Regions from separate parts of the Homo sapiens genome. Here region 2 is linked to region 1. The links come from fine-mapping of genetic effects on gene expression. A gene starts in region 1. The other region holds a variant in brackets. All regions are shown on one strand. Distances are between the middles of the regions. Region 1 holds the start of REM2 (RRAD and GEM like GTPase 2). Region 2 holds the start of AJUBA (ajuba LIM protein).

Region 1 (15,715 bases):
CTGTACAGCCATCTGGTCCCTTAATGGGCCCAGTGTGTTTTCCTGTGTTTTAAAATTTGAGCTGCCTCTGTTCATGGTCTTCAGAATTTAGAACTTGCTTACTCCACTACAGCCATGTAATTTCTCTGGACCTTTCACCACAGCCACTGCACATGGCCCTGCCCATTGTGTCCCCGCATCTTGACTGCTGTCCCCTCTTTCTCTTCCTCCCATCCTTATTGGAAAGGGAGCCTCAGATGCAAAGCTGGATAAAATCATCATTAAGTATCAAGCAGAGCTGGGCGCGGTGGCTCACGCCTATAATCCCAGCACTTTGGAAGGCTGAGGTGGGTGGATCACCTGAAGTCAGCAGTTCAAGACCAGTCTGGTCAACATGGTGAAACTCCATCTCTACTAAAAATACAAAAAATTAGCTGGGCGTGGTGGTGGGTGCCTGTAATCCCAGCTACTCGGGAGGCTGAGGCAGAAGAATCACTTGAACCCGGGGGGTGGAGGTTGCAGTGAGTGGAGATCGCACCATTGCACTCCAGCCTGCGTGACAAGAGCAAGACTCCATCTCAAAAAAAAAAAAAAAGTATCAAGCAGACATGAAATCCCAACTCTACTGCTTACCGGGTAACCTCAGGCAAGTTACTTACACTCTGTTTCTTCTACTGTTAAACAGGTAGTAACACCTTATATAGGTTTTTTTTTTTTGCTTGTTTGTTTTTTGAGATGGAGTCTCACTCTGTCGCCCAGGCTGGAGTGCAGTGGCACGTTCTCAGCTCACTGCAACCTCTGCCTTCTGGGTTCAAGCTATTTTCCTGCCTCAGCCTCCCTAGTAGCTGGGATTACAGGCGCCTGCCACCACGCCCAGCTAATTTTTGCACTTTTTAGTAGAGATGGGGTTTCACCATATTGGCCAGCTTGGTCTCGAACTCCTGACCTTGTGATCCACCCACCTTGGCCTCCCAAAGTGCTGGGATTACAGGTGTGAGCCATGGCGCCCGGCCCTTTTTTTTTTTTTTTTAAAGAGACAAGTTCTCGTTCTATCACCCAGGCTGGAAGGCAGTGATTGCAGCTCACTTCAGCCTTGAACTCCTGGGCTCAAGTAATCCTCCCACTTCCTGAGTAGCTAGGACTACAGGTGCACTGCTTTTTTTTTTTTTTTTTTTTTTTTTTTTTTTGACAGGGTCTTGCTCTGTTGCCCGTGCTGCAGTGCAGTGGTACAATCACAGCTCACTGCAGCCTTAACTTCCTGGCTCAAGGGTTCCTCCCAGCTCAGCCTCTCAAGTAGCTGGGACTATCTGAATGACACCACACCCAGCTAATTTTTTGTAAAGACAGGGTTTTGCCATGTTGCCCAGGCTGGTTTCAAACTTCTGAACTGAAATGATCCTCCTGCCTCAGCCTCCCAAAGTGCTGGGATTACAGGTGTGAGCCACATGCCTGGCCAATTTTTATATTTTTTTTTGTAGAAACTGGCTCTCACTATGTTTCCCAGGCTGGACCTTATATAGTCTTTAAGGAATTAACAGATAAAGTGTATAAAGTCCTAAGGATAGGGCCATTATTCATCTTATTATAAGTACCCATGCTGGGATGGTCCCCTTGGCTCCTCCCCAGCTACAAGGACTCAGGAAGCATTGCAACCCTCTTTCCATCAAGTTCTGGGAGGCTGTGTGGGGTAGAATGGAGGCTGGCCCTCAGGTGCTCAGGTAGCTGTATTGTATGTCTAGGGGTGGTGAGGGGAGCTGCTGCCTCTGCTCCCTTTGTTCAAACTCATGGCTCAGGCAGCAGCAGGCGTGGGCGTCCCCAGGGGAGGCAGTGACAGTTTCAGTACTCACACGGGCTTTGCAGGTGACAGCTGGGGCTGTGGAGCCCTGCCAGAGGAGGCACAGACAGACCCCCATCACGCCACAGCTGATGGGCTTCCCTGGTGGATATGGGCCCCACTTTGAACCAGCCCAAGTCAAAGCTGAGTACCGCTGGGAGCTAAGTGTAGCCTCTAGCCTGTTCCCTGCAGGATAGAGTGGGGGTAAGGAGATGAGGCTCAGAATCTAGAGATTTGGTCCCACTGTGTCACTAATTTACAAATGACTTCTAGGAGGTCCCTGTTCCTCTCCAAGCCTGTTTTCTCATCGGCAAACGCAAGAAGTGGACCTGATTATCTGTAAGGGCCTGTGGCCCTATGACATGGACTACCCCAGGCCAAGTCAGTTCCAGAGCCTCCTTAGAGAGTTAGGTTCCTTGCTCCTCTGGGCCTGAGTTTTCTGGTGGGTAACAGCAGTTTCCATCAACACCCATTCCTTCCCCAAAGACTCCAAGAACAGAGTCAAAAGTGAACAGAGGCAGTACAAAAATTATTTATTGAAAAGGGAAAGGGTGGCCCCTTGCTGGTGCCCCCCTGGCCCTGGCCAAAAGGGGTTGCCACTGCTCATTATCTGAATGCAGAAAGTCTGTCCACCCCTTACCTTTAATAACCTTAAAGGGGAAGTGCCGTGGTGGACTGGTAAGTCAAGAGAATCCATCTCAGGAACAGCACTTCCAGGCCCTTGCCTTTAAGAACTCCTTAAAGGCAAAGTGGACACATGCCGCACCAGATGAGAGCCAGAACGTTTTCGGGAAGGTCCCTGGAGGAAGTGTTTTCGTGTCTTTACCTTTAAGACTCTCTTAAAGGTGAGGCATGTTCACGCAGCGTACAAAGGAGGCAAACTCCGTCAAGGAGTCTACGAAGCACTTTTCCAGATCTTGCTTTTAGAATCTCTTTACAGATGAGGTGGCCAAGCGCGAATTAATAAAAAACAAAATACCTTGCAGAATTATTTTTCTTCCCGACCCAGCAGAACCCGCCCCGCTCACCGGCCGCCTTCAGGTCTGCGTCCTCGCCTTCTAGGCGCCCTGAGGCCCAAAGCTCCAGAGAACGCGTTGGGGCGGGTGTGGAGGTGCCGCCGAGCGGCCCCGGGCCGCCCCCGGCGGTCACACCGGGGCATCCTGGGAGTTTTTGGTTTCCTAGACGGCCTCCACCAAGGAAGCCGGACGGGGGCGGGGCGGGGCGAGGGGGGGCGAGCGGAGGGCGCGGTGACCATGGCGACCGCAGTGGCCATGGCGACCGCGGCTCAGAGCACCGAGAGGTCGTGACACGACCTGGAGCGCTGCTTGAAGAACTTGGCGTTGCGCGGCACCAGGTTGGCGAGGAACCTCTTGGCTTTCTTGGTGAGGCTCTCGCGGCGTGCAGGTGGCGCAGGGCCCTCGGGGCTGCCCGGATCGGGCCTCTGGCCTCCGGCGTGGTTTCGGCCCCGCCGCAGCCGGATCTGGCGCACCGCGCCCTCGAAGAGCTCCCTCGTGTTGTGGTGCAGTGCGGCCGACGTCTCGATGTGCTTGCAGCTCAGCGTCCCGGCCAGGTGGCGGCCCTCTGCAGGAAGGCACCGGCTCAGGCGCCCGCTGGGCTGTACGGGACCCGGGGCGAGGGTGGGTCTAGGGAGGGCCTGGGCGTGCGGTGGCAAGGGATTGGTACTAGTGAATCTTGCAACCGAGAGAACATGGCTGAGCTCATATGGTGGGTCTGTGGAGGTGCGAAGGAGAGGGAGAAGGAGGCCTAGGAGAGAGGTGAGGGGAAGTGACAAGAAGGGATTCTCAGGATCCTCGAGTGGGGCATTGGGAGTGTCCCCCTAGCCTGGGTCTGATTGCAAGTGAGTGCGTCCGCGATGGTAAAAAGGCCTTAGGGAGAAGAGGTGACTTGGAAGGGAGAGCATTCCCCTGAGATCGCAAGTATGGAATCTGTTCAGGATACACACCCTCCAGTGATACCTCCCGGGAGCGGGCCAAGTCGCTCTTGTTTCCAACGAGGATAACGGGTAGGTCGTGGTGCGGCCTCCCAGCCCGGAGCCGAAGTAGGGTCTCTGGAACTTTGGAGAAACTCCGTCGGTCGGTGACTGAGAAGACGATGAGAAAGGCGTCCCCGGTCTGAAGGCAGTGGTCCCGCAGCCACCCTCCTGCATCCCCCTGCAGACAGGCAGAGGAACGTTAGGGCTGGAGGCATAGGAGATCCTGTCCAGCACCTACACCTCAAAGAGGAGGAACAGGGCTGTGAGGCAGAAAGAAGCCACCTGCTTAGGACAGCAGAGCTAGTTAATGGCAGAATCTCCCTACCCAGAGTGTTTGTGGAGGCGGAAGAAATTAGTAATATGAGGATCCTAGACTAGGGTAGCCATCCTAATTTCTTAAGCTCTTGATTCAAAAATGAATATTATTCACACGTCTGTAATTTGGCCTCTTATTTCTACATAGTAACCTTTATGTCCAAATATTCAGAAGTCCTCACTTTTTTCCCCCTTCCCTGATATTCCAGATCCCTGAGCTCTTGTCTTGTCACATCAGATTCCTTCAGGCTGAAAAATTTATGGATGGAGTCAATTTCAGGGTGTCCAGCCTAGCTTGGAGCTGCAGGGTTTGTCAAATTCCCATCCTAAGTTTGCTCTGAGTCAGAAGATCCTGGAAAGACTGTGGGTCTTAACAGCCACAGGCTGTAGTGTGGGTCTTTGCTTTCTGAGGTGATATGAATGAAAGGTCAGGTTCCAGTACATGTGGAAACCAGGACCAGCAGTCCCACCAGCCTTCAGCCAGACTTTGCCCTTCCCCAGTTCTCCCAGCTTCATCACCTGCCTGCAGCCACATCTTAGTTCTCACCTGTTCCCAGATGTCATAAACGACTAGAGTCACTTCCTCCTTATCCACCATGATGCGTCTCTCATAGGTATCCTCTGCTGGGAAATAGGGAGAGGGTATAAAGTCCATTAGGAGGTTTCCCAACATTTGTGAGACCTGGTAACCAGGGACACCTCAGATCTCAGCACCAGGGAACCCTGCCCCTCTTCAGGGAGGCTGCCACAGAAAGCATTGGAAAAGCTTCTGTTAAGCTCTGTCCTTCAGGGGCTGCTCAGGTCACGAGCACTTCCTTCCCTGACCAGGGCCCCAGAGCCCCCTCAACCCCTGGAGGGCTTCCCCAAATACCTGGGTTCTCCGGTTCGTGAGCACTGTCTCCCTGGAGACCACCAAAAGTGCCTGCTAGGGTGCTCTTGCCCACGCCGCTCTCCCCCACTAGCATGACCTTGAAGATGCCATCCTTTTGAGCAGGGGCTGCCTCCCCTGAGCCCAAGGAGTCAGACGAGCCAGAGGATGAGGCCTGAGGTGGCCAGTCAAGTTCATCTACAGCCTGGGCCCGCCGGAGCTGGTGCTTGTAGGGGACAGGCATACTGCCTCTTCGTCTGGGGGCCCCAGGGGCAGAGGGTAACCCGCTCCGGTCCAACTCTGCCAACAGTTTCTCTGACTTCTTTAGTAGCGTGGCATCTGCTTCTAAAATAAAATGGGAGGGCAAAGAAAAGGAAGCTATGAGTGGGATATGCTCAACCATATGCAGAAGGCTCAATCCAGGCTGTTCCAGTATCAGAGGCCCAGCTACACCCACTTGATGACCATTACCCAGAAGGAACTGAGAATGTCTGGCCTGACCTCTTACACTAAAGTCTCCAGAAGCCTGAACTGGAGTTGACATGATAGCTTCTCCAATGCGGTCCCAACCCCAACCTATTCAAAACGTGCCCCATGCAGGGAAGGGACCTGAATGCAGGCTCACATACCCACTCACACTTTACACTGATACACAGGCAAACCCCCAGACTAGGCCTCTGGCCCTGTACGGTGGAGTTGGGGGAGGTTTGGGGAAGCTGCCTCTTTTTCCATCAAGAGGCCCTTCCTCCTCCTGTTTCCAGCACTGGTAATCCCCAAACTGAGGAGCAGAGAGGATGACAAGCTGAAACTGCTGCCCAGTGTCTGGGGAGTAGGTATAGCAGAGTAAAAAACTTTGTAGTGAGCTTCTTCCTAGGAAAGGGCCTTTGCTTTTTGAGATGATGTGCGTGCTGGGTCTCTGTGGGTTCTCTGTGTGTGTGTGTGAGAGAGAGAGAGGGGCTGCTGCTTCCCGTGGCCCTGTAGGTGAGCATCCCTCATTGCGTGGTTGGATGTGAGAATCCTGCATCCCTGTCTGTCCCTGTGAGTGGGAGAGAATATTGTGTTCATAGAGCAGTAGAAGTAGAGAGAGAGAGATAGTGTGTGTGTGTGTGTGTGTGTGTGAGCGAAAGGGAGAGTGACAATGCGTGGGTCAGGGTAACTGGAGGAGGAACAACAGACACAACAAAGGGGGCTAGAGGGAGGCTGGAAATAGCCCAGGATCAATACTTGGCCAGCAGCCAGGGCCTCCAGCAGCCAGAAGAACCCTTACAATAGTTCCCCGGGGTAGCCCCTGCCTGTGATTCCCAGGCTTGTGGGCTGCCCCTTTCCTCTCCCCTTCCTTCTTGCCTGTTCCAGCCTCGGGAATGAGGCTGAGCTAGGGGCCATGTACCAGTTTCTCAAGCAAAGCCCTGGGAGTGCTGGGGGAGGGGGCATTTAGGCAGCTCTTCCCCTCCACCCTAGCCCAGCCCCAATCCCTTGTGTGAGCAGGGGTCTTCTCCACTTTCTCAATTGCTCTTCTCCTCTTGCTGACTGAGCTCAAGCTCCCTCAACCCCTAGTTCTGACCTCCCCACCAAAGCTTCAGCTCCCACCCCCATGGTTTCAGCCGGAACCTGCCCAGGTTAGCCCTCACCTGGTGTGGGCGTCCCTGGAGGGGAGGCCCGGCGGCTGCCAGAGGGGCAGAGTGCTGTGGTTTCTGTGTCCATGTCCATGTCTGTGTCCAGGTCCGTGTGCATCAGTGTGCGTGTGCGTGTGCGTGTGCGTGTGCAGCCCAGCAGCTCGCAGCACCCTCTCCCTCACTCAGCAGCACTGTCAGCTTTTCCCTTTAAATACCACCCCCCCCCCCGACACACACACATGCCCTCCCCCCTAGACACCTGGGGAAATTGTCCCACCCCCTGATGAGGTCACACATGCTAATGAGCAGTGATGTCAGCGGGATTCCCTCCTTTCTGCCCCCCCTCCCTTTTCTTTGTGTCGCTTCTCTCTGGGAGCACACACACTGCAGAGCTTGGTTGAGTTATGACAGAACAGTCAAGGGGCAGAACAGACAAGGGTTGCAGGGGGTGTCAGTGGGTAAGGGAGCTCAGGGTGACAGAAGGCAGGGACCTGGGGAGGTGAAGGTCTTTCTCCAGCAGCCAGGACTACGCATCATTTGTCTTTGTATTTCCAGACCCCTAGCCCAGTGTCTAGCCCAGAGAGCGTGCTCAGTGGCTGCACAGGGGCAAGAGGCAGAAAGATTAAAAGCTGGTCTGAAAGACAAAGAGATGCAGGCCAAAAGAGGTGTGGGGACTGAGGGTCAGCCACCCTGCCACCTTTTCCTTCTCCACCCTGCCTCTTCTGGGCTAAGAGCCACGAAAGTACTCATTTCCCAGCCCCTAGGCAGATGCGGGCTCTGAGGAAGGAAATTCAGCTGCTTCATTTGGGCAGCTTCATTTTGCCACTAAGTTCAGGTAGGGGCAAACCACTGTGGAGACTCTTCCACCTTCTCTCCCTGCCAGGCCCACCAAGCTAACGATAATCAGAGCAGGAAAAAAGGGTGAGACAAAGCTAGCTATCTCAAACACGAGGTTCCCAATCTTAAGTGGGTGGGGAAGGGGGAGTGCCAGCTACCCCCCAACTCCCCTACCCACTGTTAATGTTTTTTTGGTGCAGCTGCCAGGCCTTCTGGGCTATGCAAGGCAGGTACGCAATGGGTGATGTCTGCCTGTTTGTAGGAAGCCCAGATAGCACATCTCTTTTACCGTTCTTTTTCTGCCCAGTTCCCTTTCCCTTCAGGTTCCTTCTCCTGCCCCTTTCCTTCTTGTCCTCCTTCCTGACACCCTTAAGCTCCCAGACACACGTTCCGATTTCCTTTCCTTGCCCCGTTTTTGCCAGATGCTGTGCTAAGTACTTTCTTGCATTATCTCCTTTCATCTTCTTGAGCCCAAGGCCCACAGTGGTAGGTGGGTGCCCCGTCCCTAAAGCAATCTTGCAGCTGGAAAATGGGAACACCAGGAATCCCACCCACATCTTTCCAGTGCCAAGGATTTTTCATTTCTACATTGTGCAGCTTTCCTTCTCTTAAATATTCCAACTGTCTCCTATTATTGGGAACAGTCTATATTGCTATCCTCAGTGGACTCTTCCAATGGAAGAGGCAAAGAATAATCTTGGGAACAATGTGCAGTGACACTTCACTTATTTGGAGGTCAGCTATAGGGCAACAGTGCAGGGTTTGAGGGAGCAGAAAGGACCCCTCAGCTGCTAAAATACTCCTGTGCTTTACTCACTGGGTAGATTCTCCAGTCCTCAGTCATGGCCTACTTACTTTTACTTTTTACTTACTTTTATTCACAATTTTAACGTGTCCATGTGTGTTCCTGTACTAGTAGATTAGAAACACATTTAGAGTAGCAAGTGACCCCTTGTAGTCAGGGAGGCAACACCACACACACACAAAATAACATTTAAAGCACTCATATGCATTTTATAAGTGGTCTAAGGTCATTTAGCATAAAAGCAAATAGCTCCCCGTGCCCCTACTGTTACAACTTCAGAAGACACTGCTGGAGAAAAGCCATTGGTTTCTGTGAATGATCCTCAGTTATGCAGAAAATTATTATATTGCAGATATGCTGAAGACAAGTGTAACATTTTAGAATGACTTCCTTCCAAAATGAGTATTTTTATTTTTTTCAGAGGGAGGGTCTCACCCTATTGCTCGGGCTGGACTGCAGTGGTGCGATCATGGCTCACTGTAACCTCAACCTCCCGGGTTGTGCACTTGCCCGTATCCAGGCTCCCTCAGGAATGGGAGGTCCCATGGAATGGTGGGACAAGGGTGAGATTTGGAACGAAGCCATGCCGGCTCTAAATCCACCACTTGGTAGAGACTGGGCCAGTCTTCTGATTTCCCTAAAGCTCCTCCTGAGCTTGCAAAATGGGGTTTATGATGCCCATGGCCCAGCCCTGTTGTGTGGGTTCACTTCAGGTGATGAAGAATCTGGCATCATCGGGCACTCACTTTTTTTTTTGAGATGGAGTCTTGTCTCGCTCTGTTGCCAGGCTGGAGTGCAGTGGCGCGATCTCAGCTCACTGCAACCTTTGCCTCCCAGGTTCAAGTGATTCTCCTGCTTCAGCCTCCCGAGTAGATGGGACTACAGGCACGCACCACCATGCCCAGCTTATTTTTGTATTTTTAGTAGAGACACGGTGTCACCATGTTGGCCAGGATGGTCTTGATCTCTTGACCTCGTGATCCGCCTGCCTCGGCCTCCCAAAGTGCTGGGATTACAGGTGTGAGCCACTGCGCCCCATCCAGGCACTCACTCTCTAACCACCTAGGTGCTTCTGCAGCCTTGGGCTGTGTGGCTGGGGGGTCCTTCTCCCCTCCTAGTGAGGTCTGGAGCTTGGTTCAGGCCCATGATTTTTTTTTTAAATCTATTTATTTATTTTGAGACCAGGTTGTGAGACTGGCTAATTTTTAGTATTTTTGGTAGAGACAGGGTTTCATCATGTTGCCCAGGCTGTTCTTGAACTCTTGGCCTCAAGCGATCCGCCTGCCTTGGCCCCTCCAAAGTGCTGGGATTACAGGTGTGAGCTACTGCGCCTGGCAGAATTTTGTTTCTTAAGGACTGAGTTCTGGTATCTTCTTTTCTTTTTTTTTGGAGAAGGAGTCTCGCTCTGTCACCCAGGCTAGAGTGCAGTGGCGCGATCTCCACTCACTGCAACCTCCGCCTCCCGGGTTCAAGCAATTCTCCTGCCTCAGCCTCTCGAGTAGCTGGGACTACAGGTGCATGCCGCCACACCTGGCTACTTTTTTGTATTTTAGTAGAGACAGGGTTTCACCGTGTTGCTCAGGCTAGTCTCGAACTCCTGAGCTCAGGCAGTCTGCCTGCCTTGGCCTCCCAAAGTGCTAGGATTACAGGCGAAAGCCACCGTGGCCCAGCCCTGGTATCTTCTTTTATCTTAGGCTCTAGACTCTGATTCACAGCCTGAACCCTATCTCATGCTGAAAACACCTCCCACCTTCCCACCAAGAGCCTTAACGTGGGTCCCACACCGCTAAGACCAAGCACCTTGGATATTGGTATCTATCTTGATGGAATTTTAGGTTGCCTCATTTCTTTTTTTCTTGGGCCCTGGTGGAAATAAACCTGAGTGACTGCTCCCCAGTGCCATCACTTGGGCAGGACACTCTGTCTTAGTTTCTCCATGCTGCCTGTACAAGGTCAGTCCCCTATCCCGGCTAGCTTGGGGCTTCACTGTGGCTGACAAGAGTATTATTACTACCTACACCTCGTACAGCACACAACCAGAACCTAGAGAAACTTCTTTCAGGCCCACTGATCTATAAGCACAAGCCTCCTTAGTGAACTCTGCCCTAAAGTCCTCCTTCCAGCATTTGGAAGCATTCCACCATGAGGAGCAGGTTTACCTTAAGTCTTTGTCCACTTTCAGTTTGCAATACCACTAGGAGAGAAAAGGTCTGGATGAAGGGATGAAGATATCAGGCTGCAGGTATTTGAGGTGGCTATGGGGGAAGAGAAGAGCAAAGGAGAGGGCAAAAGACCAGGCTATGGAGAGGCAGGGGAGGGAAAATCACTGCTTCACTATTTCCATTGGGCCTGACGCTGAGTGGATCCTGGATTGTTTGCGTTTGGGAAGGAGGGCCCAAAGGGAGAACAGTAAGCAAGAACCAGGTTCTCCAGAGCCCTCTCCCCAGTCTCTGGAGAGGGTCTGCAGTGAAAGGAGCTCGGGTCTTCCCTGAGCCAAGGTGCCAGGGTCCCAGAACTGCACATGGGCCCACACCCCTCTCTGCTACTTCCTCAGGCTCTTGCTCACTAGAAGAGAGGAAAATTGTGCAATTAGTGCTGGGTTTGAGGAGGCTGACAGGGTGTAATCAACAGGGCCTCTCCACCAGGTGTGGGGCTAGGCTGGGTGATGGGCTCTGCCAGGCGTGGGGCTAGGCTGGGTGACAGGCTCTGCCAGGTGTGGGGCTAGACAAGGAGAGCCTGAGGGGAGCCTCTTTCCCCAGGGACTGGGTCCGTTAGGGAATTCCTCAGTTTTGTTCCTGAGGCATCACTCCCACCCCCACAGCTTCCTTCTACATCTTCTGCCTCGATCTTCCTTCCAAACTCTGGGGCAGCTTCTGTCACTTTGCTCACTAGGGGCTGGGTTCCAACACTGCTTGCGAATCATTCCCTCCATCACCCACCCCAGCGCTGCAGCTCTGGCCGCTGCTTGTGCTCTCAGGCCCAGGGTCTTTCCTATAACCCTTGCCCTCTTGTCTCCTCCGTTTGCTTGTTCTGGGGACACTCCCCCTGTCTAGAATTCACAGCTCTATTCCAACTGCTGACAGCATTCTTTTGGTTCCAGTTTGGGCCCTCTTCCAGGAAGACCTCTTGGATTTGGCCATGGTGATGCCAGCACCACACACCCTGAATGTTTGTGAATTCTCCCTCCACTCACCTTTGCCTGCCTTGAGGTATCCTGGCTGAGAATTCATCTGTCTTGCATAGGACAGACTGCTAAATGCCTGGTGGGTGTGGAGGGTGGAGGGTAGGAGTCATGACTCCTGTGTCCCACCAGGGACAGCTGCTCCTATGATCTGGGCTCAGGGTATGCTCCAAAAATGAGAACCTTCCTGACCGCAGGGCCCAGCTGGCTCCCCTGACTTCTATGCTGGCAGTGAGGAAAGAGGCCCTGGAGTCAGTCATTGCAGAGCTGGGCCCCAGGCATTTGAGTGAAAATGGAGAGGATTGATCCTTAGGGTTCCTAGAATTTTCTTACCTTCTGTGTGGTATAAAAATCAAGAGTGCAGTGGTTGGGAGATGAACAGGAAGAGGGCAGGAGGTAGAGGGCCAAGCAAAGGGCTCCACAGGGAGGAGTGGGATGAGGTGAGCATAGACTGAGATGGGCAGAGGCGGGGCTCAGGCTCGCAGCTAATTTGCAAAATTTTGAGATGTATGATTCCTTTATTTTTGACCTCAACTTACTGAGCAATGCCGTAGCTATGGAATAGAAGCATTTGTTGCACTCTTTTTGTGAGCCAGGCCCTGTAGGAGGGATTGTGGATGGCAAAACCTCAGGTTCTGCCCAAATCCTCCCCTTGGGGGCTGGAGGGTCTCTAGTTAATTGGCATTCCGGTGCTTAAGGCCACTTTTGGGTAGAGGTTTGGCAAGGATGGAGTGTCCAGACCTATGATCCTCTAAGAACTTTACTTTTTAAAAACAGCCACCCAAATGGTGGTGGCGTGGGGAGCAGGTGGTGGTGAAGGGACTGGGGTGTCTGGCCATGGCCACGTACAGAGGAGACTCTGTGAGCCCTCTCCCTGCCTGAGGGACACTTAACTTTATAGCAGCTACATAGGGTCAACGGGAGGCCCACCAAGTCCCTGAAATCCAGGGACAGGGAAGGAAGTGGTGGAGGGGAGGCTGACCCACCTCTAAAAGGTTGTGCCACTATGAGTAGAGCCCCCAGGGGAGAGGCCTCAGTAGAGCCCCCAGGTCCCCTCAGGTAAGCAGTGGCTCATCCTCTGCCTCAGCTACCCACACCCCCGGCTCAGCCAGTGGCACCAGTAGCACATCGTCCTCATCTTCCAGGGCCAGGACTGCTGTGTGGGGTCCAGGGGGGCTCCGGGTTGGTCCTGGGGGCCCCAGGCTGGGCAACAGGCGGCCTCGCAGGGCCTGCACCACTCCAGACAATAGTGATGGCTCTAGGGGCAGTGAGGGCAGTGGCCCTGGGGCTTCAGGGACAGTAGTGGGGGCTGGAGACGTGCTAGCAGATGGGAGGGGAGCCTTGATGGGCAGTGGGGGTGCCTGCTCCCCATCTTGCCCACCCACTGCCCCGCCCTCACGGGCTGGACCTGTGCCACCATCTAGGGCCTCAAGGGGAGCAGCAGAAGGTGTGACCTGGGATCTGGCCTCAGAGGCCCGAGCCGGGGTGTTGGTTCGAGGGAGCAAGCCCCAGCGGCGGAGACGGCGTACCAGGCGTCGCATCAAGCGGCCCCGCTGACGACGGCGGGCACCTGGGCCACCTCCTGGAGTCATATCCTGGCGTAAGATCTGTAGCAGAGAACGCAGGTTGCCCAGCACTGAGTTCTGCAAGGAAATGAGGAGGCCTCAGAGTCAGAGGGCCAAAGGCTGAATGAAGGAGGGTACAGGGGCGGGGCCACAGCAGAACTGGGACCAGGAGGTGCTAGGGTTGTGGGGAGTGACTTACATCATTAGGATTCTCTGTAGGAAAGTCTTCTACAGGTGGGATGGCACCCTGGGCAATGAGCTGCCCGTAGGAAGGGGGTGCCTGCTGCTGCACAATCTCAGCCTCCATCCGGGAGAGGGGGGCAAAGATGCTAGAAGGAATGAGGACTGCTCAGTCACTGGTAGTTCTCGGCCAGAGTAGACCACCTCAGCCTGGACAGTCCTCCCACTTCCACACCCGGGCCAGGCCAGCTGGAGCTGTGCCATGGCTTTCCCAAAGGTCATCTGAGGTCCCTCCTCCCTTGAAACTGCTTTCAGGATCTGGACCTGTCCCTTACAGGACACAACTGACAAGCTGATCATGGGAGCCTCTCCCCAAGGTGGGCACTTTCGTGGTCTCCTGTAGCTGCACAGCCCAGCCTCACCCTCAGGGTCTACTCTTCTACTGCCAGCCCCACTCCCACTGACCTGTACTCCTGGGTGCGAATGGCATAGAGCTTGCAGGTGCAGCCCAGGGCGATGACCAGGAGCAGGCCGCACACTAGGCTGCCAATGACTGCAGCTGTAATGACCTTGCGGGGCAGAACATAGGAGCAGTCCCACTCATCACTGCCGTCCGCACAGTCTGGCTGCCCATCGCACACCCACGTCTCATACACGCACTTCTCGTCCCGGCATCGGAAATTGCCAGGCTGGCAATGCCGACAGCGTCTCTCATCTGCTCCATCAGCACAGAAAGTCTGGTAGTTGCAGCGGTCAGCAGGCAGGTAGCAGGCTGTGGCACCAGAGGTGCCAGCAGCCCCACAGGGGAAGTGTCCAGGTGGGCAGCCTGGGCAGTCCTCCTCATCTGTGCCGTCAGCACAGTCCCATGAGCCGTCACAGCGCTGTGCCTCACTGTAGCAGCGCTCACCTAGGCCTTCGCCAGCTCCCAGGCCAGAGCCTAAGCCACAGGGTCTGTCCCAAGGCAAGCAATAGCCCCGCACATGGTAGGTGGCATTGAAGCCACGACCATTGCTCCAAGCAACTGTGTGGTAGGACACAACAGCCTGGCCAGACAGTGTCTCCACAGTGACAGCCTTGCCATTGCTGAAGTGGGTGAGACTACGCAGTAGTCGGGAGCTCTCAGGGGGCCCAGGGCCGTCATACACATGCACTGCATCTCCAAAGCCCAAGTCCAGGGCTGTGAAGCGCACGGCCAGCCGCCGGCCATCATGGGGGTCCAGCAGCCAATGGCAGGACTGGGGGTGGGAGACTGAGGCTAGGTGTGTATATCCAGGAGAGGAGAAGACCCCATAGAAGTCCTCCAAGGTGACATTGCAAGGCAGGGAGGGGACGGGTCTTGGGGTCAGGCCAGGGAAGGGGTCTGAGCTGCAACCTGCTTCATCAGAGCCATCGCCACAGGCATCAACCCCATCACAGCGCTGGACAGCAGATACACAGCGGTGGTTCAGGCACTGAAACTCTTCCTGCAGGCACATCAGCCAATCTGCAGAGGCACCATGGAGAGGGGCTGTGAAGCACCAGAACCCTCAGGATCCTCCCCTTCTGCCTGGGGCTTTCACTGCCTGCTCCTCAGACATCCCTGTCCAGCCTACCTTGGCTGTAGGAGAGCAGGAAGCCCTGGCCCATGGGTGCTCTGGCCCCAGCATAGCTGTAAGTGATGGTGACGTTGCCCCCGGGCAGCTGCAGAGGGCTGGGAGGTGCCTCACACAGGGAGATCAGTGGCTGGAGAGGGGAGCGTAGGGTTAAGCGCTCTGAGCCACAGGCCAGGTGTAGCTTCTGGAACCTATGGGAGTAGAGGAGAGCAGGACATGAGATACTCTTGACTGCTGCTGGCTTTCTCCTCCCCTGGTGCCACCAGGCCCCTTGTGTCCCAGGAAGCATAAACATCTGCTTATCCATGATCTAAATGGCCAAATGAAAACTCAGTTAGCCTATTTATTTATTTATTTAGAGACAGAGTTTCACTCTTGTCACCCAGGCTGGAGTGCAATGGTGTGATCTTGGATCACTGCAACCTCCACCTCTTGGGTTCAAGTGAGTCTCCTGCCTCAGCCTCCCAAGTAGCTAGGATTACAGGTGCCCGCCACCACACCTGGCTAATTTTGTATTTTTAATAGAGATGGGGTTTCACCATGTTGGTCAGGCTGGTCTCGAACTCCTGGCCTCAGGTGATCCACCCGCCTTGGTCTCCCAAAGTGCTGGGATTACTGGCGTGAGCCACCATGCCCGGCAGCCAAATTATTTTTAAGTCAATGTAGTCAATGGGGATCTTCCTAACATGGTAGGAATACCTCATGGTATCGCCATGAGACCATAAAATATATCCTAGAGCCCTTTGGAAAAATTGACTTGTGTTCTGGGACTGAGTTAAGAAGAGGTGCACTGCATTCCAGTTGTTGTAGCACTGTCACCCAAGTATGGTACCAGCAGTAACTGGTGATTACCATACAGTTCAATTAACCAGAACTCACCATCTTATCCCACCCCACTGTGCCAGATGTGAGACCTGGATTGGTTCTCCATGGCATTCTGATCCCTTTGCCCC
Region 2 (15,715 bases), 100 kb before region 1:
TGAGTGCACTCCAGCCTGGGTGACAGAGTGAAACTCTGTCTCAGAAAGAAAAAAAAAAAGAAAAGAAATACAAATACATTTTGAAGAAAAAATTTAAATGTGCAAGAGTAGGGGCCGGGCGCAGTGGCTTACACCTGTAATCCCAGCACTTTGGGAGGCCGAGGCGGGCAGATCATGAGGTCAGGAGATTGTGACCATCCTGGCTAACACGGTGAAACCCCGTCTCTACTAAAAATACAAAAAATTAGCCGGACGTGGTGGCAGGCACCTGTAGTCCCAGCTACTCAGGAAGCTGAGGGAGGAGAATGGCGTGAACCCGAGAGGCAGAGCTTGCAGTGAGCCAAGATCGTGCCACTGCACTCCAGCCTGGGCGACATAACGAGACTCCGTCTCAAAAAAAAAAAAAAGAAAAGGAAAGAAAAAAAAGTGCAAGAGAAGGGGACTTCAGGAAATGTTCACTTGGCTGGGCGTGGTGGCTCATGCCTGTAATCCCACCACTTTGGAAGGTCAAGGCGGGCAGATCACCTGAGATCAGGAGTTTAAGACCAGCCTGGCCAACATGGTGAAACCCCGTCTCTACAAAAATACAAAAATTAGCCAGGCATGATGGCAGGTGCCCGTACTCTGAGCTACTCGAGAGGCTGAGGCGGGAGAATCGCTTGAACCCGGGAGGCAGAGGTTGCAGTGAGCCGAGATCGCGCCACTGCACTCTAGCCTGGGCGACAGAGCAAGACTCCATCTCAAAAAAAAAAAAAGAAAGAAAAGTAAAAAAGAAATGTTCACTCGCAGTACTCCTGGTGTATACTTGCTTTCTCGTTGCTATCAGGGGTATGTTCATGGAAATGTTTGAGACCCTCTGCTCCAGTGATCACACTACTCAGGAGCAGAAGTAAGGCCAGGGATGATCCTGGAATCCTGACACACATGAAATGAAAAGTCAGGGAAGACCACACTAGAAATAGTAACTTGGATAGGCTCTTGGCTTAGAAAGGATTCAGGCAGAGAGCCCCTTAGGGACAATACCTTTTTACCCTAGGGACCAGAGGAGAGTTTTCATAACATCCACTCTTGGCTTGATTGTGTTTTCTTTTTTTCCTCCTAGAAACTGGTCCACAATGTGCATAACCACATCACCAATGACAAGAGATTCAATGGGTCTGAAAGGTATGGTCTCCTTGAGGAAAAAGAATTAGAAGGTACTTTGCTAAGGACAGGGAAGTAGAGGGGGATGCTCCAATACAGCAATGAGACTAAGGCTTTGATCTCACCATACCTTCTTAGGCTGTGGAGGGATTTGCCACAAAGTTGATTAGTGCTGGGTATCTCTGTTTGTCTGGCTCTTACAAAGCCGACAACTTTATTCATTCTCTTCTCTTTGTGGCAGCATCAAGTCCTCTTGGAATATTTCAGTAGTGAAGTTTCTTCTGGAAAAGCTCAAGCAAGAGCTGGTGACCAGTCCCCACAATTACACTGATAAGGAGCTAAAAGGTGAGAAAAACTGGTTTAACTCCTATGCCATCCTTTCTCCCCCTCTCCTCCCACTCCTCTTTCTTGGTCAGAGGAGAAGAGGAATAATAGAGATGATTAGGTGGTTTTGAAAATAGTGGATTTGAAACATTTTTTGGCTATTCTCACCTTCAATATATTCATAGAATTATCTCAAATTGCCTGTTTATTTCCCTCTCAGTCTGAAACGAAAATGAGAGAAGGAAAGGGCTAGAACAGCATCATGCATTCTGTTTATGCAGGTCTTGCACCTAAGGTGTTACGAGGAGGAGGAATCTAAGGTGTTATGAGGAGGTGTTATGTTCAGAAGCCAGGCCTGCCCCTTGGTCCCTAAATATTATTTCCCAGGCTTTCTCTTTCCTTGCTCTCTTTTGTTATTTGTAGCTAACCCTGAAGTATTATGAAAGCTTCTGCTGAAAAAGTACTTGTAGAGCCAGGTAACGTGGCTCATCCCTGTAATCCTAGCACTTTGGGAAGCCAGGGCAGGAGGATTATTTCAGTCCAGGAGTTCGAGACTAGCATGGGCAACATGGCGAAACCCAATCTTTACCAAAAACAAACAAAAATAACAAAAATTAACTGGGTGGGGTGGCATGCATGACGTAGTCCCAGCTACTTGGGAGGCTGAGGTGGGAGGATTGCTTGAGCCTGCGAGGTGGAGGTTGCATTGAGCCAAGATCGTGTCACTGAACTCCACTGTGGGCAAACCTTGTTTCAACGAAAAATAAAAAAATACTTGTAATCTTCCATCAGAGTGGCAATAGGGGTAGATTGTTGTTGTTTTTAAATTTTTTTTTAAATAGAGACTGAGTCTCACTATGTTGCCCAGGCTGGTCTCAAACTCCTGGGCTCAAGCAATCCTCCTGCCTCAGCAGGAGGCCTCCCAGAATGTTGGGATTACAGGTGTGAGCCACCACGCCCAAGAAGGGGTAGGTTTTATTTGGTGGAGGGAGCGGGGAGACACAGAAGCGATTGGAGTTGTCTTTTTCCAGTGGGAGATATTTGGGAGGAGTTAGTGTTGGAGATGGAGGTGGGCAAAGAAAGCTAAACCAATTAGCCGGCCATGGTGATGTGCACCTGTAGTCCCAGCTGCTCAGGAGGCTGAGGCTGGACGATCACTTAAGCCCAGGAGTTGGAGGCTGCAGTGAGCATGCATGACCATGCCACTGCCCTCAAGCCTGGGTGACAGAGCGAGACCCTGTCTCATAACAAAATCATAATAAAATAAATAAATAAAAAGAATCCTAACCAAAGAGGAGTGAAGATGCTAATGCCTATGCCAAGAAAGCCCAGCATCTAGGCCAGGCACGGCTGCTCACGCCTGTAATCCCAGCTCTTTGGGAGGCCAAGGCAGGTGGATCACCTGAGGTCAGTAGTTTGAGACCAGCCTGACCAACATGGAGAAACCCCATCTCTACTAAAAAGAGCTGGATGTGGTGGCACATGCCTGTAATCCCAGCTACTCGGGAGGCTGAGGCAGGAGAATCGCTTGAACCCAGGAGGCGGAGGTTGTGGTAAGCCGAGATTGTGCCATTGCACTCCAGCCTGGGCAACAAGAGTGAAACTACATCTCAAAAAAAAAAAAAAAAGCCCTCATCTAAGTAGTGATCGCCAACCTCCCATTCAATAGTGTTAGGGCAGAAAAACGGGCTGGGGACCACTACTCAGAGGACCCTCCTTCTTGCTCCCTTCCTTCCCTCCCCGCCAGGAGCCTGTGTGGCCTACTTCCTTACTAAGAGGCGTGAGTACCGCAACTCCCTGAACCCCTTTAAAGGCCTGAAGGAAAAAGAGGAGAAGAAACTTCGAAGTCGCCGATATCGGGTAGGTTTCTAGGCCTTTCTTTCAAGATACTAAACTCTAAACCCTTTCCTAAGTGGGAAGGGCCAGAGGACATGGCATATGAGAATAGGGTTGAGAGCCAGGAATGTAGGAAGATAGAGAAGAACAGTGAGCCAATGCTAAGATCTGACTTGGGGACTGGGTTCACTTAGGCACAGATTTTACACAGCCTTCCCCACCAAACCTTTTCCCCAAATCTAATCCATAGAATGTTTACCTTCCTAATCTATCTCCTGGGTTCCTGCCTTAGCTTTTTGCCAACCGATCCAGTATCATGAGGCATTTTGGACCTGAGGACCAACGTCTGTGGAATGATGTGACAGAGGAACTGATGTCAGATGAAGAGGACAGTCTTAACGAGCCAGGTGTGTGGGTGGCCCGCCCTCCCCGTTTCCGGGCCCAGCGCCTCACAGAGCTCTGCTACCACCTGGATGCTAACTCTAAGCATGGCACCAAAGCCAACCGTGTGTATGGGCCTCCCTCAGACAGACTGCCTTCTGCTGAAGCCCAGCTCCTTCCACCAGAACTTTACAATCCTAATTTCCAAGAAGAGGAAGATGAGGGAGGGGATGAGAATGCACCTGGCTCCCCATCTTTTGACCAACCCCACAAAACCTGCTGTCCTGACTTGAACTCATTCATTGAAATCAAGGTGGAAAAGGATGAATAAAATCTACAGCCAAGAATAACTCTGGCTTCCGCCATGCCCCATGTCTCAGAAATAGGTGGCCATGGGGCTTCACAAAATAATGAGATGCTCTGTGCAGTCTGAGAAAGCAAATTTGCCTCTTTTCTTAACACAGTCTCTACTGGGGAAGCAGAACACTGGTGGGATAAAAACTTATCTAGAAGGGGAGAAACTCCCTCCACTGTGAACAGTAAGCCAGAATATGCTTATTCCTCAGCATAAACAGTATCTCGGAGAAGCCTGGGATGAGAAAATGAGGAGGATGGGTCCAAGAAACATGAGGCCTTCTTGACATATGCCCTGTCTCTGAGTTGTTTCTGCCCCTGCCCAGTTCCACCCAAAGCTCTGAGGAAGCAGCCCAGGTTGTACCTTTTGCTTCCCTGTGACTACTTGTCTTGCTCTGCAGTGGAAACCGAACATGACCAGTGCAGGTTAATACCGCCACCTGGTGGGCAGTTTCAGTCATGAGCTTGAGTCTTCTGACCAAGGGAACACAAGTTCTATCACTATTGGGGAATTGGGTTCCTGATATAATAGCTATTGTTTATTGAATTACATGAGGAAAATTTTACTATTCCTATCTTACAGATGAGGAAATTAAGGCTTAAAGAGTTCCCGTGTCTCACCGGCAGCCTCTCTCTCACTATGTGACCAAGCAAAATACACAGCTTTGTAGCTGTTTCTTGGTCCTGTCAGCCAAGCTGTATTTTGAGGAAGGGGTGTGCATTTTGGATGGATTGAAAAGCAAAAATGGCTTTACATTTATTCAGTCTTATAACAAACATTGATCGCTTTACTAGGTGTCAGGTACTGTGCTATGGATACATTGTTGATAAGGTTGGATGCTGTTCAGAGATTTTTTTAGTTTAGTCAGGAAGCCAGGCAGTGGAGTAGGCAATGAAATGAACTGTGATAAGGGTGACCATGGTGGAGTGTAGTGCACTATGGCAATATACAGCAGGGGTAGCTAACCTACTCTTGCAGTCTGGAAAGGCTTCTTCTGAGAGGGTGTAATGTCTAAACTGGGGAAGAGTTAACCAGAAGGAAAGGGGAGGCTAAGAGAGTGTTCCAAACAGGGAACTGCAGGTACAAAAGTCCAGGGGCAAGAGAGAGTACAGACAAGGTCCAGTTCTACTGCAGACTTTTGGGGAAGGGATAATGCTAGAGGAGAGGCTGGAGAGTGAGACAGACCTCATAATACAGAGTACAGACTTCAACCCAAGGGCAGTGAGAAATCATTGAAAGTTTGTTTTAGCAGGGAAATAAAACGACAGGTTTTGCCTACAGGCAGTCCCCAACTCAACGATGGTTCGACTTAGGATTTTTCAACTTTACGATGGTGCGAAATGATTCAGTATGCTCCTCACCTTATGATGCAGTTATATCAGATAAACCCATTTTAAGCTGAAAATATGGTGAAGTTGAAGAAGCACTTCTGCCTTACGATATTTTCAATTTATAATGGATGGGTTTATTCAGACATAACTCCATTGTAAGTCGTAAAGCTTCTGTACTGAAAAAAATCACTTGACCTCAGGGTATAAGATGGATTGCAGGGAGCAAGCCTTGGCCAGGAGACTTTTGCATTGGTTTCGGAGAGGAAAGACGGTGACTTGACATATATAGTGGTGATGAGGGGAGGACAGATTTGGAAGATGTTTAGGAAGCAGAATTAATAGAACTTGGTGATTGATAGGACTTGGTTGGATTTGAGGTTAAGGGAGAAGGAGGACATAGGGTTGACGCTCAGATTTCTAGTTTAAGCAGCTAACAGGATTGTGCCATTTACTCAGAGAATGTTAGAGGAGCCAGTTTCATGAGGCAGAGAAGATGAGATCAGTTTAGGATATTGGGTGCTTCTGAGACAGCCATTGGAGATGCTAGTAGTTAGTTGAGTTTTTAATTCCAAGAAAGACTGGGCTGGAAATATGGATTAGGGAGTCACCTGCATATACAGATTATAATTAAAGTCTTGGGAACGAAGAGGGCCTTTGGAGATCCCAGCTCCAGTTTAGACTGTGGAGAGGCCACCTGAGGTCATGAGCACTATTGGAGCATGCCCTATTAGCATATGCGTCTTCTACTTCTTCCCCTTCACTCATCTCTGCTTCCAGTTATCCCTTGAAAACACAGGCTGTTCATCCCAGTTGTGCCCATTGCTACCACCAACTCTTGCATGGGCCTCCTTTAATGGCCTCCCAACATTTCATAAGATTTCCTCTCGCATCCTCACCCCAAAGGATCAAAGCTTCCAAATATTAGTAGTTGTGTGGATATTTTGGATGTAATTGGAAGGAAGAATCAAAGTTCTCCTTCCTCATCTGGACACAGGAAAGGAGGGAACACATTATGGTTAATTCTGAAGATGTTGCTCACAGCAGGTTCTAGATGCAATCCGATAGCTCCCCTCTGTTCCTAGTGCTTTCAGTCCTCCCTGCTTCCACTCTGGTAGGAAACTCTCCTCAGGATCAGAGAAAAGCCGTGGCCTTGACCAGGGAAACAGAGGCTGATTCTCAGGGGAGATGAGGTCAGGGAGACAATGCAACTAGGACGAAGAAGCCAAATAGTTTGGCACAAATTAATTTCCCAAAAGATATTAACCTCGTTTCTTTCCACATTCCCTAAGGCTACACTAAGATTATAAAAGGTGTTCAAAATGTTGAGATGAAAATAATATGCATGACTTGTTTGCATATAATTTTCATACTCATTTACTATCTAAATACAAAGGAGTCATTTTCCTTCTCCATTCTACTTCCTCCACCCCTTGCCCCTGATGTTTTAGTCTGGGCAAAAGTAGTTGGCTGGTTTTTAAAAAATTTTTTTGAGACGGAATCTCCCTCTATCGCCCAGGCCTGAGTGCAATGGCACAATCTCGGCTCTCTGCAACCTCCGCCTCCTGGGTTCACGCGATTCTTCTGCCTCAGCCTCCCAAGTAGCTGGGACTACAGGTGCACGCCACCACACCGGCTAATTTTTGTATTCTTAGTAGAGACGGGGTTTCACCATACTGGCCAGGCTGGTTGCAAACTCCTGACCTCGTGATCCCGCCGCCTCTGCCTTCCAAAGTGCTGGGATTACAGGCGTGAGCCACCGCTCCCGGCCGTTGGCTGGTATTTAATTAGGTATGTTTAGCTTCATCTAGGGTTTCTTTAAAAAAAATTATTATTTATTTTTGAGAATTTTTTTGAGACGGAGTCTTGCTCTGTCGCCCAGGCTGGAGTGCAGTGGCCGTGATATTGGCTCACTGCAACCTCTGTCTCCCGGGTTCAAGCGATTCTCCCGCCTCAGCCTCTCGAGTGGCTGGGACTATAGGCGTGCGCCACCACGCCTGGCTAATTTTTGTATTTTTAGTAGAGATAGGGCTTCACCATGTTGGCCAGGCTGGTCTGAACTCTTGACTTCAAGTGATCCGCCCGCCTCAGCCTCCCAAAGTGGTGGGATTACAGGCGTGAGCCACCGCGCCCGGCTGCTTCAGCCAGGGTTTCTTTTCCTTATTCTTGATCCTTTTAAAATAGTCAATATCAGCCTCTTTTCCATCCTGATCATTTTCATTTGCAATTTCCTCTACACGGCATTTCTTTTCTTCCTCTTAATACTTACTCTGTATCACCAGTCTTCTGTGGACCAAAACCAAAGGGAGAAGGTGTTCGCTAGCCCTAAAACCAGGCCTTCGATCTCCACAGTCACCTGAAATGAGAAAAATCTCATTTCCCAACACCAGGGGGTGTCTATCCCTCTAACTGTCCTACCCTTAAGGTAGAGATTAGTCCCAAACCTTTTCCTCACTCCTTTTCACTGCTTCTACATACACACTATATCTCTTTCCCTCCCTCTCAAAGTAGAGATTAGTCCCATTTTCCTGACTCCTTTTCACTGCTTTTACAAATCACAAAACTTTTGGGTCCAGAAGGTGGTGCCTTTTTATTGCAGTTTATCTGTTTGTCTCTCATTCTCTCTGGACAAGCTTGTCCTTTCCTTTGTCTGCGCACCCTTCGGTCTCTGCATCGTCCACACTCCTCTTTGCTCCTCAGCTCTCCCTTTCTTTCGCTACCTCTTCCCTCTTCCACCTCTCTCTGTGGGCTTCGTCGCCTTTCAGGGCTATCTTTACGTACACGTCTCTGAACCTCTTTATGCATTTGTCTTCTTTCTCTCTGTCTTCCTCTTTATGGCTCTCTCCTTGTCTCACCATTTCTGTACCAGTCTCTCTCCATCTCTCCCACAGTCCCCACGCTGGGAACAAAGTCACGGTGCTAGCGCAGAACATGCCTCCTGTCGTCCGGTCCCGGGACGCGACACATTCCACCATGCCCCTCCGCGCATTCCAACTGCAGACAAAGAGTCCCCGTCCCCTACCCCCACACTCTTTCCTATTCCAATTCTTCAGTGTTGTAGGGGCAGCTGCCCCAACTGCCCCTGCCCGCCTCTCACGTCCAGTCCGCGGGTCTCCACATCCAGGGCAGTTAGCGCCTTCCGCTGCACGCACACCAGCTATCCCTGCGCGGACACCCCCGGCGCTCTCGCACACACCGCGCTCCGCCCCCCTAGGAAAGTAGATCCGGCCAGGCAGACAAAAGTTTGGGAGAGAAGTTCGGTCTGTGGCTAGCGTGAGAGCTAGGGGGGCGGGGGCCGGGGAGAGTGGGGCAGTCGGGCGAGTCGACGCGTGAACAGATAGACCTGCGGACTGGACAGC[C/T]GCGGCCAGAGACCCTGCTAGCCCCGCTCAGCCCCAGATGCGCGGGGGGACGCAGCCCCTCCCGCTGGGGGATGCTGTGGGATTCCTGGCGCAGGGCATCCAGGCCGCCCGCTAAGCCCCTGTGCCTCCCCTGTGCCCCTGGGGAACCAGAGTCCGGCTGCAGGGAAAGAGAACCGGCCGCCGAGACGCCGCAGGGTGCCAGGCGGGGAGGGGGCGAGAGGCCCCAGGCCCGAGGGCATGGAGCGGTTAGGAGAGAAAGCCAGTCGCCTGCTGGAGAAGTTCGGCCGCAGAAAGGGTGAATCTAGCCGGTCTGGGTCTGACGGGACCCCCGGGCCGGGCAAGGGGCGCCTAAGTGGGTTGGGGGGACCTAGGAAGTCAGGGCCCCGAGGAGCTACTGGGGGACCTGGGGATGAGCCGTTGGAGCCGGCCCGGGAGCAAGGTTCCCTGGACGCTGAGCGAAATCAGCGCGGCTCCTTTGAGGCGCCGCGCTACGAAGGCTCTTTTCCCGCGGGGCCGCCGCCCACCCGGGCCTTGCCTCTACCTCAGTCGTTGCCCCCCGATTTTCGGCTGGAGCCCACGGCCCCGGCCCTCAGCCCCCGCTCTAGCTTCGCCAGTAGCTCGGCCAGCGACGCGAGCAAGCCGTCCAGCCCCCGGGGCAGCCTGCTGCTGGACGGGGCGGGGGCTGGCGGAGCTGGAGGTAGCCGGCCCTGCAGCAATCGCACCAGCGGCATCAGCATGGGCTACGACCAGCGCCACGGGAGCCCCTTGCCAGCGGGGCCGTGCCTGTTTGGCCCACCCCTGGCCGGAGCACCGGCAGGCTATTCTCCCGGAGGGGTCCCGTCCGCCTACCCGGAGCTCCACGCCGCCCTGGACCGATTGTACGCTCAGCGGCCCGCGGGGTTCGGCTGCCAGGAAAGCCGCCACTCGTATCCCCCGGCCCTGGGCAGCCCTGGAGCTCTAGCCGGGGCCGGAGTGGGAGCGGCGGGGCCCTTGGAGAGACGGGGGGCGCAACCCGGACGACACTCTGTGACCGGCTACGGGGACTGCGCCGTGGGCGCCCGGTACCAGGACGAGCTAACAGCTTTGCTTCGCCTGACGGTGGGCACCGGTGGGCGAGAAGCCGGAGCCCGCGGAGAACCCTCGGGGATTGAGCCGTCGGGTCTGGAGGAGCCACCAGGTCCTTTCGTTCCGGAGGCCGCCCGGGCCCGGATGCGGGAGCCAGAGGCCAGGGAGGACTACTTCGGTGAGTGAGAGAAGTGGTTAGGGACGGGAAGGGACCCGTCACGGTATTCGGTTCTCCACTGCCCCGACGGCCCAAAGTGCCGGTGCCCCGGGGTCCGAGGTGAAGACGCGGGACTAGGAAAGAAGCAAGAGGGATGGATGGGGGCGGCCCCAGAGCACTGTCCCCTTCCTGCTAGTTTTCAGATGAACCAGGGCTCCTTATTTCTGCTAAATTCAACCCCCCTGGTATCTCGTGAGTCCGTTTCTCAAGCATTTGAACCTCGGTTTTTTGCGGCAGGAGGCCTCGTAGGGAAGGGACCAAGTGGGGCAGTGAAGGCGCATCCCCCCCAACTTGCTCCCCCCTTTCACGGCGGTGCCCCTGGAGGTTTGTGCGCGCCGCGCCCCCACCCGGGCCCAGGCTCCGCCCGCAGGAATTCGGAGAATGCGCGGGTGGGGGGGCGGGGCAGGCTGGCCGCGTGCGTGCCGACTCCTGCCCGGGCGCTCCAGGTGCCCGCGGGCGGGGCGGCTGCCGCCGCGCGGCGGAGGGGTGGGGTTCGGGGATCGGGGGACGCTCCCTAGCATACGCGGAGTAGTGGCGGCTGTCGGGGAAATGGAGCCTGGGAGACAGGATGGAGCGCCCTGGGACCCAACTGCTGTCCCTCCCCAGTCCTGTTGGCTAGGTGCGTGCGTGGGCATTTAATCAGAGACCCAGTAGTACCAGCTTCTATTTTCCCCATCCTCCGGAAGTCAGGGTAAAAGTCATGACTACTGGGACACCATTACCTCTGGATGGATAACGACCCTGTGTTATTGCCAGAAATAACTTGGCCTTGAATTCTGCTTATAACCTCTCAGAATTCAGGCCAGAAGTAGCGCCTTACTTCCTGACACTGTTAAGGAAACCTGGTCGCTGTCTCCCTCCCCTACTCTGTTCAGGAAGTATTGATTGATTATATGTCTCAGCTATGAGGAACATTAGGGTCTTGAAAGATCTTTTAGTCAAAATTCACAGGCACTGCTACACACATAAAAAACTTCGAATCTGATTGTGATTGGAAAGAAGTGGCAGGCTTACCGCCTAAGGGCTGTGGGCCTCTTTCACTTTTCTAAGCATCTCTTCTTACCACTCATGCCCCACTCCTGGACCCCATGCTGTAGAACTCTATGGCTAGAAAAGTGAATAGGAAGAGGAACGCGGCCAGGGAGGGATGGTTGGGTAGGAGGTTCAGAGGTAGCAGGGCGGCAGGCTATAAGGGCATAACTCAACCCCCAGCCTCCACCCCCATTCTTTTCCCCACCTCCAAATCCACCGAGAGGAAAGCCCAGAGGAGATGATGCCAAACCGCTTTGATCAAGGAAGACTGAATGACAGGGCCCATTTAGCAGTTTCATTTTGAGGCCCAGGAGAGGTGGCTAGTAAAGAAGTCTTTTTGGCTGAACCATCAGAGCCAAAAGGAAGAAAGGAACTCAGAGAAACTGCAATAAAATGGCAGGAAGAACATAGGTATAGATATGCTGGGTTAGAGGAGGTGAGGCCAACGTGCCTGAGCAGTTTCGTTTGCTTTTCCCATAACGTCCAAGGTTTCCTAAAGAATGGCTCCGACAGGACCCCCTGGCATGGCAATCTTGGGGCAGATCTTCACTTCCATGAGGAAGCCACATTTTGAATTCAGAGATGGGGGCCCCTTCTCCTTGGGAGTCAGGTTGCCTCCTTTGACAGAACCCCTACATACCCCTTGTGCCGCTAGCCCCAGCTTGACTGTACCCTCCTCCTGCCCCTAGTAGGGGCCCTCTTCCTTGGCTTCAGCCTTGCCCAGCTGCCAGAGGGTGGGAGCAGGACAGGCCTGGGCCCATCAGTTGCTGCAGCTGCTGCACAGGCTCCCAAGCCCCTGGGCAAAGACTGGGATGGGCCCCAACAGGCAGGGAGTGTGGCAGCGTGCCGAGGGGGAGAGGTGGGGCAGGCCCGTTGGGATCTGCTCCCCAAAGACAGGCCCTAGCCCTCACTCATGGGCCTGGAATTGGGGAGTGGAGGGAGGGAAGAACACACCCAGGAAAGGCAAGTCCCAGAGCCAGGTGTATATATCTTAGTGGGGGATTTTGGGGAATAGCAAGCAGTTCAGTTCTGTATTCTTCCCATGATAGAAGGTGACTAGGAGGCATCAGGGGCTCTGCTACTCTCCCTGCTTTCCTGTTCAACCCTGGTTCCTGGAACACACCCTGCATTCTCAGCAGCCACCTCCCCACAGGAATCATGCTCACATGGTCCCCTCTGCACGGAGCCCTCTGCCAAGCCAGATCCTTTTCTCCATCCTTGGAAGTCTGCAGTGGAGAGAAATCATTCTATAACTGAACAGCTCGTTTGACTGATGGGAAACTGAAGTCCCAGAGACGATTTCTGGGCCTAGCCTGCTTTCTCTAGAAAGTATTTTCAAGTCTGCTGCTGAGCACCTGTGGACTGGCATCTTTGACCGTTCATCCTACACACTGCAACAGAGATCATACCTTGCCTGTGTAGTCTTTTCTCCCCAACAGAAACTAAGCATCTGAATGCCAGGGACCATATCTTCGACTTTCTCCAGGTTTCCTTAGGTAGTGGTGCTGTGTTAAGCACAAAACAGATGCTCAGAAAATATCTGTTGAGTAATTAAATAAACAAGAATGGATCTGCTCAGCCAAGATCTTGCTGCATCTCATTACTCGTTATCTTCTCTACTCAGAAGGGAGCCCATCAAAGGGAGACTGTGACCCCTGGCACATCAGGAAAGGGCAGTCAGGAAAGCTTGGGAATCCCTGGTTTTGACCTGGGGGAGTAGAGTGTGACACTTTTCTCTTCTCAGGCACCTGTATCAAGTGCAACAAAGGCATCTATGGGCAGAGCAATGCCTGCCAGGCCCTGGACAGCCTCTACCACACCCAGTGCTTTGTTTGCTGCTCTTGTGGTGAGTGTAGCCCCAATACTCAAGCACTCCCCTCCCCTGCCCACATACACACTTACAAGTGCTATGGGGAACAGGAGGAGAGCTTGTGCCTCTTCATTTGCTCACAGAGCAGCTGTTGGATCCCCACCAAGTGTCTGGAGGTCCGCAGCTGCTCTGCCTCTCTTGCTTCCCTGTCTGTCCTCTACTTGGCTCTCCCTCCGCCTGGTGGGTCCCCTTTCTGGAGTCCCTCCTTCCTTCCTCACCTCTGTTTCTCCCTCTCGTGCTTCCCTGCTTGCCCATCCTGGACTTGCCTGGCCCTCCAGCTTCTTGGTGGGGCTTGGTCTTGGGCAGCCAAGTTGCCTGGGGCGACAGTGAAAGACTGGAATGTGGGGAGGGTGGGGGCAGGCTGGGGGAGTGGGGAGCTGTTTGGGGCGGAGAGGGGGGTTTTCTCTTGGCTGGTCAGAGTTCAGCCACCTCACTGGAGTGCAGGCCACCGGGCCATGCCAAGCTGATGACATCACGCTCCAGGAATGCCTGCCACTGTTAGCTCAGGAGGCCCACTTGGAAAGGGGGGATGCTCCCAGCGGCCTTAACTGCCCCCCTCCCCTCCCTCATTACCCCCTCCTTACTGCTTACCCATTCTGATTCCTTTGCTAAACCTTTAATCTCCTATCTCTGCCTGTCTGACTTCAGCACTCAGCTTTTCTCACTCCCCCAGTTTCTGCCTGGTTCTCTTTAGGCTCATCTGTCTGTCTATCCTTCTGTTTACAGGGCCTCTTCTGGCTATATCTCTTTCCCTATCTTTCCTCCCCTGTGTCTCATGAGCTTCTAAGTCAGCTTTCCTAACCCACTGGACAGAGTTGGAAGTAGGGATTTTGAGGGGAAGAAGGCAAAGGTGGGAAAATTGCTCATGCTCCACCTGTTCTCACTCCTTCCCTATCCCTGATAATGTAGACACCTGGGAGCAGTTCCTGGGGGTTGGTCACATGGGGAATTGTCCTGCCTTGTCTGCTGGAAGAAGATCCTGGGTTGTCTCTTACCCCAGTGACTCTGGGTCCCTCTAAGCTTAGGGAAGCAGCCTTATACAAACAGGAGAGGGGACCTGCTTTGCTTCCAAACAAAGCACTTTGTCCTTCTGCAGTAACTCCAGTCCTGACCTCCATGGAGTCTGTCCCTGGAAGGAGACAGGCATTTGAGAGCAGGATAGATATGCTCAGGCAAAGAGGCTTCTAGGTTGAAGGGTCCCAGAGGGAAAGGCCTGTTAACAATGTGGTTCTCTCTATGCAAATCATATAGCACCTTATTAAGAGCTCACGTATTCCAGCACGTAGTTGGCTTTACTCTCCCAGGTGGCTTCCTATGCACTGGAGAGGAAGGCAGTTTGTTTAGGGGAGGGGCCCTAGAAAACTGTTAAGGAGGCAGGAGCTGGAGGAGCAGCAAGCAGAGGAGAGGGGAAGTTGGCTGGAATGAAGCCAAAGCAAATTGGAATTGCATCAGATGGAATTTTTGTGCGGGGAAGGACAGACAGCAGTTAGGAGGAAAAGCACAAAGTCCAGGTTTAAATATATTATGCAGCAGCGGGGAGCAGTGACCCCAGAAGTCTTGCACCTGGGCTGTGGGATAGGTTCCAGCCCCTTCTCTATTGTTTCTAGGGCGAACTTTGCGTTGCAAGGCTTTCTACAGTGTCAATGGCTCTGTGTACTGTGAGGAAGATTATCTGGTGAGTAAGGGTCACCTGGACCTGGAATTGGTTTCCATACTGACCCCCTTCTTGGTGGCCCATTGGAGTACCACCCATCATTCTCAGTTTGATAACAGCCTCCGTTCGTCTTGTCTTTTACTTTAGTTTTCAGGGTTTCAGGAGGCAGCTGAGAAATGCTGTGTCTGTGGTCACTTGATTTTGGAGAAGGTAAGTAAAGTGCTTTCAGCTGAGAAGTCTCACTGTGAGGCTGAGGAGCGGGATCAGGGACTAAATGGATATTGAGAGAAGGTTGGGGAAAGAAGCCTGTCACCAGATGAATCACTTTCATCCCATTCCTCCCCAGAGCAACTGTTTACAGTGGCTTCCCTCTGCCTATGGGATCAAGTCTGGGCTCAAAAGCCTGTCAACCCAGGCTTCTATGACCTAGCCCCTCCCTAACTCTGCAGGCACAGCCAGGCCTTCCAGCCTGAGCTAGGAGTGTGGGGTCCTGAGTCTTTTTTTTTTTTTTTTTTTTGAGACAGAGTCTCGCTCTGACAAAGTGGAATGATCTCGGCTCACTGCAACCTCCGCCTCCCAGGTTCAAGTGATTCTAGTGCCTCAGCCTCCCAAGTAGCTAGGACTACAGGCATGCGCCACCATGCCTGGCTAATTTTTGTATGTTTAGTAGATAAAAGGTTTTGCCATGTTGGCCAGGCTGGTCTCGAATTCCTGGCCTCAAGTGATCCTCCTGCCTCAGCCTCCCAAAGTGCTAGATTATAGGCGTGAGCCACCATGCCCAGCCTGGGGTCCTGAGTCGTCTTCTTTTTTTTTTTTTTGAGATGGAGTCTCACTCTGTTGCCCAGGCTGGAGTCCAGTGGTGCGATCTCGGCTTACTGCAAGCTCCGCCTCCTGGTTCACGCCATTCTCCTGCCTAGCTGGGACTACAGGCGCCCGCCACATGCCCGGCTAATTTTTTGGTGTGTTTTTAGTAGAGACGGGGTTTCACTGTGTTAGCCAGTATGGTCTCGATCTCCTGACCTTGTGATCCGCCCACCTCGGCCTCCCAAAGTGCTGGGATTACAGGCGTAAGCCGCCGCGCCCGGCCAGTCCTGAGTCTTAATCCCCTTTCTGCTACTGGTTAGAATCACTTGGGACTCAGTTTTCTTTTC

What was found. PIP is the estimated chance that this variant, and not a neighbour inherited with it, causes the effect.
Region 2: its variant is fine-mapped to the expression of REM2 in whole blood (TOPMed, PIP 0.92).

Annotation. Positions count from the first base shown.
Region 1 is chr14:22,874,293-22,890,007 of GRCh38, reverse strand. It overlaps REM2 (RRAD and GEM like GTPase 2), which reads right to left and starts at 6,786. Exons shown (of 5, transcript NM_173527.3): 1 at 6,618-6,786; 2 at 4,993-5,334; 3 at 4,669-4,742; 4 at 3,777-3,984; 5 at 2,330-3,394. The coding sequence starts at 6,720. The coding sequence ends at 3,099. It overlaps LRP10 (LDL receptor related protein 10), which reads right to left. Exons shown (of 7, transcript NM_014045.5): 4 at 14,763-14,953; 5 at 13,636-14,653; 6 at 13,190-13,319; 7 at 8,295-13,068. The coding sequence ends at 12,481. RefSeq lists enhancers at 1,571-1,670, 5,997-6,534, 6,535-7,073 and silencers at 2,901-3,230, 3,471-3,540.
Region 2 is chr14:22,975,515-22,991,229 of GRCh38, reverse strand. AJUBA (ajuba LIM protein) reads left to right here and starts at 8,679. Exons shown (of 8, transcript NM_032876.6): 1 at 8,679-9,969; 2 at 12,785-12,886; 3 at 14,518-14,585; 4 at 14,712-14,774. The coding sequence starts at 8,964. C14orf93 (chromosome 14 open reading frame 93) reads left to right here. Exons shown (of 7, transcript NM_021944.4): 4 at 1,103-1,164; 5 at 1,385-1,488; 6 at 3,215-3,327; 7 at 3,596-5,336. The coding sequence ends at 4,015. It overlaps AJUBA-DT (AJUBA divergent transcript), which reads right to left and starts at 6,906. Exons shown (of 3, transcript XR_007064074.1): 1 at 6,410-6,906; 2 at 1,024-1,481. It overlaps LOC124903287 (a long non-coding RNA gene), which reads right to left and starts at 13,403. Exons shown (of 2, transcript XR_007064076.1): 1 at 13,129-13,403; 2 at 12,009-12,580. RefSeq lists a silencer at 4,390-4,499 and enhancers at 7,699-8,664, 8,665-9,630, 13,236-13,530. The variant C/T (reference allele first, on the strand shown) is at 8,727.